Linked DNA regions of Homo sapiens: region 2 is linked to region 1. The links come from fine-mapping of genetic effects on gene expression. A gene starts in region 1. The other region holds a variant in brackets. All regions are shown on one strand. Distances are from middle to middle.

The links. PIP is the estimated chance that this variant, and not a neighbour inherited with it, causes the effect. A credible set is the group of variants that fine-mapping cannot tell apart.
Region 2: its variant is the best candidate, but not a certain one, in a credible set for the expression of NXPE4 in lung (TOPMed, PIP 0.83).

What each region holds. Positions count from the first base shown.
Region 1 is chr11:114,593,026-114,597,436 of GRCh38, forward strand. It overlaps NXPE4 (neurexophilin and PC-esterase domain family member 4), which reads right to left and starts at 2,761. Exons shown (of 6, transcript NM_001077639.2): 1 at 2,567-2,761; 2 at 1,639-1,744. The coding sequence starts at 1,734. It also overlaps a transcript of NXPE2 not described here.
Region 2 is chr11:114,701,444-114,705,854 of GRCh38, forward strand. It overlaps NXPE2 (neurexophilin and PC-esterase domain family member 2), which reads left to right. Exons shown (of 6, transcript NM_182495.6): 4 at 2,548-2,609; 5 at 4,338-4,411. Among named protein-coding and RNA genes, the nearest start is that of NXPE2, 25 kb to the left of the region's middle. The variant C/T (reference allele first, on the strand shown) is at 2,654.

The DNA.
Region 1 (4,411 bases):
ACAAAATGAATTAAAGACTGATATGCATGACCCAAAGTATGAAAATACTAGAAGAAAACCTAGGGAATACTGTTCAGGACACTGATGTAGCCAGAGGATTTTTGGATAAGACCTCAAATGCACAGAGAAGAAAAGCAAAGATAGACAAATGGGATTATATAAAACTAAAAACTTCTTCACAGCAAAGGAAGCAATCAAGTGAGTGAAGAGTTAACCTACAGAATGGGAGAAAATGTTTGCAAACTATCCATCTGACAGGGGATTACTATCCAGAGTATTCAAGGAACTCAACCAACTCTATAGCAAAAATATTTAACAATCCAATTAAAAATTGGGCAAAAGATCTGAATAGACACTTACTAGAAGATATGCAAATGGCAAACAAGTATATGAAAAGGTGCTCAACATCATTGATCATCAGAGAAACACAAATCAAAACTACAGTGTAATATAATCTCACTCCTGTTAAAATGGCTTTTATCCAAAAGACAGATAGTAACATATGCTAGTGAGGATGTGGAGAAAAGGGAACACTTGTACACTGTTGGTGGGAATGTAATTAGTACAACCACTATAGAGAACAGTTTGGAGGTTTCTCAAAAAACTAAAAATAGGCTACCATATGATCCAGCAATCCCACTGCTAGGTATATACCCAAAATAAAGGAAATCAGTATATCCAAGAGCTATCTGAACTCCCATGTTTATTGCAGCACTGATAACAATAGCCAAGATTTGTAAGCAACCTAAGTGTCCATCAACAGACAAATACATAAAGAAAATATGGTATATATACACAACGGAGTAGTATTCAGTTATAAAAAGAACAAGATTCTGTCATTTGCAACAACATGGATGGAACTGAAGGTCATTATGTTAAGTGAAATAAGCTAGGCACAGAAGACAAACTTTGCATGTTCGTTTTTATTTGTGGAAGTTAATACTTAAAATAATTGAAGTCATGGAGTTAGAGAGTAGAATGATGGCTACCAGAGGCTGGGAAGGGTGGTGGGGGCATGGAGGAGAAGTGGGGTTAGTTAATGAGTACAAAAATATGATTAGACAGAATGAATAAGATCTAGCATTTGATAGTATAACAGGGTAACTACAATCACCAATAATTTATTTTACATTTAAAAATAGCTAAAAGAGTATAATTGTCTTGTTTGTAGCACAAGAAAGGATAAATTCTTGAGGCAATGAATACCCCATTTACCCTGATATGATTACTATGTATTATATGCTTGTATCAAAATATCTCATCTACCCCATAAATACATACACCTACTTTGTACCCACAAAAATTAAAAATTAAAAACAAACAAATGAAAACCAAAAATATAGATATTCTGTTCTTCAGATGTTCCCTTAAAGAAAGTAAAAAGATGAGCTAAGCATTGAAGAAGATAGGTGCAATGCATTTATTTGTGACAAAGAAAGAATGTGTATGTGTGAACACACACACAGTATTTATCCTCTCACATATTGCTTAATGATTATCAGGTATGTTGTTTGGTATCTAGCTATTCAAACTCCCCTCCTATAATCTACAAGTCTTGTAGTTTAGCCTTTCCTAGAACAGATGAGGTAATAAGCAAAAATAAGCTTCTGTAAACCACATAAATAAAGCATTTCCTACCTTTGTGGAGTTCTGGAAAACTGTAAAAATGATCCAGGAGGCTAATATAAACAACAGTGCCAATAGTGACTTATAATTTATCATACTTATTTTCATGATTAGGATCCTACAAGAGACAATACAAAAACAAGCACAAAAACATACAACAAAACAGAAAAGCAAACAAACATGGGAAACATTTGAAATTTTTTTGGCTCATGATTACTTTTTAGCCTCAGATAAATAACTCCCAGAAATAAACCTTCACCCCCGCAAGCTGTACTTGGTATCTCCCAGGTGCTCTCTTTTAGCTATCTGCTTGTACATTCTACAGAACAGATAATTCATGGAGCCCACTGTGATCTTTAAGAAATCGAGCAGCTTAAGGGCCTGAAGGATGCAAGCTTGCTCGTGTCTAGATGAAGTCTCCAGACTATTTGTCACCTATCAGGTTCCCTGTTCTATTCCCTTAAACTCAAGGGCAGACACAAAATACTCCAGCAAATATTAACACTGAGAACCACATCATTACAGTGCCTGTTGAATGCAAATTAGTTTTTCTGTTTCATTAATGCCAATCTATTAATATGTCCTCCTTTTCTGTTTTAGCAGGCTTTCTAGCACCCCCTCAAGCTTGAAAAGAATTATTTTAAAACATTTCTTACTTAAAAAAATTTCAGGCTTTATCAGTATTTTTCCATGATTCATCTTAACATTTCTCTTTGCACCGGAATTCCAAGTTCTCTTTTAACTTGGAACTTTAAACTTTAACATCAGATTGCTTGAATGCTGCCTTTCTAAAACTTTCCATCCCTCAAAATTTACCCTCCCCTAGAAGCACCTTTCACCCCAGATCCCTAGTTTATACATGGGCATTAGATGTTTCTGCACCCAAAAATAAATGTCACACCTTTCCCTCACCTTCCCAATTTTACAAATTTTTTCATACCTTTAGTTTACAGATTGTTCAATCCCATACATAGACTCTCTGGCGAGCTAGGTGTTGAGAATTTCTTCTGAAGCCACCAGTGTGCTACTGGCATACCTCTTGTCTATACCAAAATAAATTGCAGATATAAGTTGCAGTTTGTTTACCTTTAGCATGGATTCACAACCTTCTGCTTGTTTCAGCTAAGACAGAAGTGTCAGCCACGTCAGCTCCACCTTAAGGAGGGGCCTGGATCACAAACTGTAGTTATTAGCTCAAGCAGAGGTAGGAAGGAGAAATGAAGTGCTCTGCATAGTAGGTTATATGATTTCAAATTCCTGAAGTTTTATAAGTCTAATTCTAGTTACAATAAATAACTGATGAGAAAAAGAGTGTTTGATAAATAATTGTATTTAGTTAATACAATTTGATAAATATTATAGTTACAATAAATAACTGATGAGAAAAAGAGCCACAAGTTTGAATGATTGAGAGTAATCATCAACAGAAAGTCAAACTTTCTAGTTTCCATCTAGCGTTATCATCAAGACCCAGTTGGCAGGATTCAAGTGCGTATTATCTCATACATAGTAGGTTTCAATACAATTTGCTGAATTGAACTAAAAGAACTTCAAATATAACATAGGGAAGACAATAATATTAATTGCATCTGAGACTAACAGAGTGACAGCTTGTAGTCATGGGTTTGAATCCATCTGGGATTTGTATTCTTGATCTGATGAAAACAGTGCTGGAAAGAGCAGGCACCCAGACAGCTGCACCAGTGCCCACAGGAAGCAGTAGCTGCTGGCCCTGTGGCTCCGTCCATGGGTTGATTACTGCTGCCCTACACAGGAGGGCATGCCCATCATCTTTCCATCTTATTTAAGCATGCCCATCAATCTTTCCAGTCTTATGTTTTTAAAAAGATGGAATCAAGACCAGTTTCACAACTGGTCTACTTGTTTCAGATCTTGAAATTCTTCCAACATCTTTGATCCTGTTCTACCAAATTCACCTTAACAATACTTCTTTATGTCTTTACTTGATGACCTTTGGAAAAGCTGTTTTAACATTATAAAACTGGGTGTAGGATTGTTAAATTTTTCACTGAGGAGCCTATAATAAGAAAAAAGTATTTGCAGTGGGTTTGGTTTGGCTGTTCCTTAGAGGACTGATGCCAGCAACCACCCAAGTTCACAGTCTACTCTGAGACATATAGATTTATAGATTTTAATTTGGTTTGGTCACATAGATTTTGAAATCTAATGTTAACCTGGAGTCTGTTTATGAGGTAGGCACAATAGATATGCTTGACTTAAAGAACCAAGAGTACAAAAGAAAGTTTGAATGATTTGTGCAGGTCATCTGATGAGCTTTGAAACAGGGCTGAATCCAAGATTCCTTTCATTTTGATCTCTAACACTGTGTGTTTATAGTGTATATGTATAACAACATAAGCACAAAGAATGAAAACTAGGAAGTTGGAAAAACTATCTTGAAGTCTTTATACCATGTGTGAATTGGGATAATATTACTTGAAGGATAGACTCTGATTAATTAAGAAAAATATTGTAACCCTGGTATAACCACTAAATATTTCTTTTAAAAAGTGGTATACATAATAAATCAACAATGAAGATTAAATGAAATAATAAAAAATGTTTGATTAGCCCAATAGAAGGAAAAGGAGGAAAAAAAGAAGTGGAACATAGCAAACTGTCAATATATTCTTAAATTCAAATATATGAACAGTGATCTGAAATCTGAATGATATTAACCAGGGGTGGACAAACTTTTTCTGTAAAGAATCAGATAGAAAATATTTTCGGAGAAAGAAACTATAAACAAGAAAATGTAATGGGT
Region 2 (4,411 bases), 110 kb after region 1:
TGCTCATGACAGTAATCATGATAGTAAGCTGCTTTATTTCCAAATAGACATAAGTCCTTCCCAGATCCCCTGCTCTATTCAAGCTATTAAGTTTTTTTCTCCTACTGCATGGAAATAGAGATTTCAGTCTCCCTACAGGTGATGTAGTGCATGTGCAAGGAACAGCTGATTACACATCCAAGAAGTCTCATGGACCATTCTATTGCTAAGCTCTAGGGTCCCTTCCTAGACCCAAGCCCAATTCTTTGACATCTTTCCTTCTCACGAATACAGGGACTAAGCCAGTTTCTGTTTCATTTGTAACATAGTACCGTTAACCCTTGAACAACCCAGATTTGAACTGCACAAATCCACTTATATTCAAAGCATTTTCAATCAAATGTGGATCAAAAATATAATATTCACAGGATGCAAAACCTAATATATGGAGAGCTGACTTTTCACATACTTGGGTTCCGTGGGGCTGAATGCAGGACTTAAGCATATGCTGATTTTTGTAGATGTGGTGGGGGTCCTGGAACCAATCTCCCACATATACTGAGGGATGACTGTAAATATATTTTCCCACCTGGGTTCTCTCCCTCAACCTTGGCTGAAGAATCAGAAATGTTACTTCCTAGGATATTTATTTCTTCAAATTAAAAAAGTCTTCTTCTTTTTAAGAGTTTTGTGGATAATCGTGATAAAAACATAAATGAGGAGTTACCATAGGAGAAGACATCACATAGGTAACACAGTTGTTCACTATTCTGTTAGTTTCTATTATGGTCTAATTAATTATAGACCCCTTTTTAAAATTTAATGCACATACACAATTACAAAAACAGGAGACATTAAAATGAATTCCTTTATAACATTAATACATGGTTTTAATCCTAATTTTAATGTAGCATCAAATTTTTCTTTGGTAACCAAATTTACAAGGTAGCCGGGTCTCAATCTCTTTTGTTATCCTCAGCCTTACCTGAGAAAGGTATGGGAGAATAGAGGTTTGGTCAGATTAAATTTCTTAAAGACAAATCTTACTCTTGTGCCAAAAATAGGTCTGATGGGATCCTCAGTAATAATAATTGCAATGATTTGTTGAGCACCTACTATATGCCAACATTTATGTTAGATGCCTCCCTTGTATTATACCATTTATCCTCAGTAAAATACTCTGGAGTGACTATTATTATGCTCATTTTGAAGATGAGAAAATTTAGGCATATTAAATAGGTTGGCCAAAGTCACATATCCAGTTGAATTGCAGAGTCAGAACGGGATTCCCAGTCGATCTTATTCTAAAGTCAATGGGCCATAGTGCTGTCTCCCATGACTCCACCACTCCATGCAGCCATCACGCCCAGCCACCCTGACCTCTCTTCAGTCCTCTGGCCTTCTTGATGAAGGGGATATTATCCTCACTTGACCCAAAAACTCATTTCCTGAGATTCAGGCAATTCTTCTCAATCTTAGAAAGGGCTTTCTCTATCCCTTTTGAAGGTTTCTGTGGCTCTGGCTCTGAAAGGGCCTACCTTCCCCCAGATGGATTTCATTCCGATAGAGTGAATTCAATTTGGCTGGACATAGTCACCATAGTCATTGGGACTGATACCTTGAGACGAAGCTCACTGTGCTGGCACTCGAAATATTATACTGAATAATATTGACTTGATTCCTATCTGAGGGAGATAACAGACTATGAAAAATAGACTCCTGGGAACTCAAGAAGGTGAAGAGTAGATGAAGATGAAGCTGGCAATGTAGACACTCATAGGAGATTTTTATACCAGTTAGGGAGCTTTTTCTGTAGGTTGAGGACAGAAAGTCATGGGAAAGTTTTACATAGGGGAATAAAACAGGTAGCATAGGGTTTGTATTTAGGTGGGATAAACCAAAAGGGCAGAAAGATAGTATTATAATAACTTAGGACAGGGTTCTCAAAGTAATGTCCGTAGACCATTGGCTTTGGGTTAGCCCAAGAGCTTGTTATTATAGAAATCCAAATTCTTGAGAATTTACCCCATAACTGTTGAATCAGAAATTCTGGGTGTGAGGCTCAGCAATTGGAGTTGTAATAAAGTACTGCAGGTAATTCTGATGCACGCTCAAGTTTGAGAAACACTAGCCTTGGAAAGGGTTGATGAGGGCCTGAATTACTACAGGTGGAAATGTGGAGAGGGTAGTTTGTGGTAGAGAGCCATTTAGAAGGTAAAATTAAAATAAGCATAGATAGATAGATAGATAGATAGATAGATAGATAGATAGATAGATGATAGATAGATAGATAGACAGACAGACAGATAGATAGATAGATGTTAGATAGATTTGATGGATTGCGTATGGAGGGTGAATGACTTTCTCTGGATCTCTAGATTCCCTGCCATTAGGAGAGGAACAGCTTTCCAGAATCCTGACCCATTAACTTCCCCAGGATATCTTAAATATATCAAAATAAGGGGGGAAAGGCATTTGGAGAAGAGAGGTTTAATCCATCTAAACCAGTGATTCCTACTTTATTATCTGGGCAGATATTAAGCTAATTTATTTTCCCATTTCTTGCAGGTCCAACATAGGAGTTGAAATGATGAAGAACTTTACCCCCATTGAGGTCATACCATGCAACAGTAAGTCTGGAGTGTTGTTGTCTGCCATGATCACAATTTATCCA[C/T]GGAAAGGACATGCTTACTTAGAGATATTTATTCCACATTAACGATTTGATCTCTCATTTCCTGGGACAAATTACATCAACCACCTTGGGTTTTAGAGAAGGGATTTTATTCTTGGAAATTATTTTCATATCGATTTAAACCAATTTTCATCCCAAGTCAGATATAAAAGGCTAGGGAAACCATTAACTTCAGTGGCACTGCCTCAAAATGTACAGGCTATTTGTATTTAAATTTAGATTTATTCCTCCAGAGCCAATGATCAGGTGCTGGTGCTATGTGAAAAATGTCTCAGATGAGCTGCACAGATTCAGAGTTAGGACATTTCTTTGGTGGTTTCTAATTTCTCATTTAGCCAAGCCATCTTACTTGAAGTTCTATGAACTAGAATTTCTGTGAATTTTTTCTCAGTTTAATCATATGAACTTTAGTGGTCAACACAAAACCATTTCACTCATAGAAGTGATGATTCTGCTACACGGGAAATGAAGTGAATTTCAAAATTAAAGTAAAGCAAAGGACTTCCATTATAACAATCAACGGGGTGTACCATTACTCATCACCCCTTTTTCATGCATTTAGCAAGTGTTTACTGAGGTCCTACTGTACAAAGAAATTTGCTAAACCCTGTGGAGAACATAAACACAAATAAATCATGAACCCAGATGTAAAGTTCACAATCTATGAAGAAGACAGATCCCTTCTCTGCTAGGGCAACTATCATTCACACCCAACTTTTACACTGAAGAAAGTTCTTAGATTCTTGAGGCAATTTGAATGTTTGTAACACCTCTTTTATTTCCCTCTTGCCTGGACAGTAATTTCTAGTAAAGTCAGGCAGTTTCTTGGAAGATAGTACCAGACTGTAATTTTTGGAGCCACTTACAAATCTGATGTTATTCAATACGAACAAATGTAAGTTCCTCAATGTGTACCCCATATCCCAACAATGCAGGTAGATGACAAAGAAGATGTGCATTTTAAGTGGTGAATATAGAAGTGGCCTCAGAAACTTACCTGGGGGAAAACTCAATAGGAGTCAGTAAATACAGTTTAGGCTATTTTAATAGAGGAGTGTTCAGAACAGGGAGGTCATGATCCTACTTTTTTCTGTGTCAGATCACACTGAGAATATTACATTCAGTTCTAGACATGACAATTAAGATTTAAGGATTTTAAAAAAAGTATTAGCCAGAGAAGATGATTCTGGGACACACAAAATAAACAATGTGACACACTCATTTCATAAACACATTCAAGCTTCTTTTCCTGGATTAGTAGTTTGAGGAAGATGAGATTTACAATTCAGCGAGGCCAATGTCATTGGTGTAATATTTGGCAGGGCCACTGTGCCCTGCTATTTCACGGCCACACATTTCCTCCTGACTCTGGCTGGCTGTTCCACAGCAGCGTGGCTCTGGGGACAAGGTGGAGCCCAGGGACACATTGCAAATGCACAAGAGTCAACAGATCCCCACTCCAAGAAAAACTATTCAAGAAAAGCTATTTAATTCACCCTTTTAACATGATCTTATTAAATAAATATTTGTGGAAGAGAGGAAGGCAAAATAGAGCTGAAGAGAAAGGGGGAGGAAAAAGAGGAAAAGGAAGGCAAAAATGAGAAACATTTTTCCAAAATAATTTGTGGTAATAAAAATTACTTAATCTGGAAATTTGTATTGCCAGAGAGCGAGAACATAAAAAAGAACTGCCAGATTGGAATGAAGACTCCTTTCCCCAGTGGTTATACTTTGAAAAAA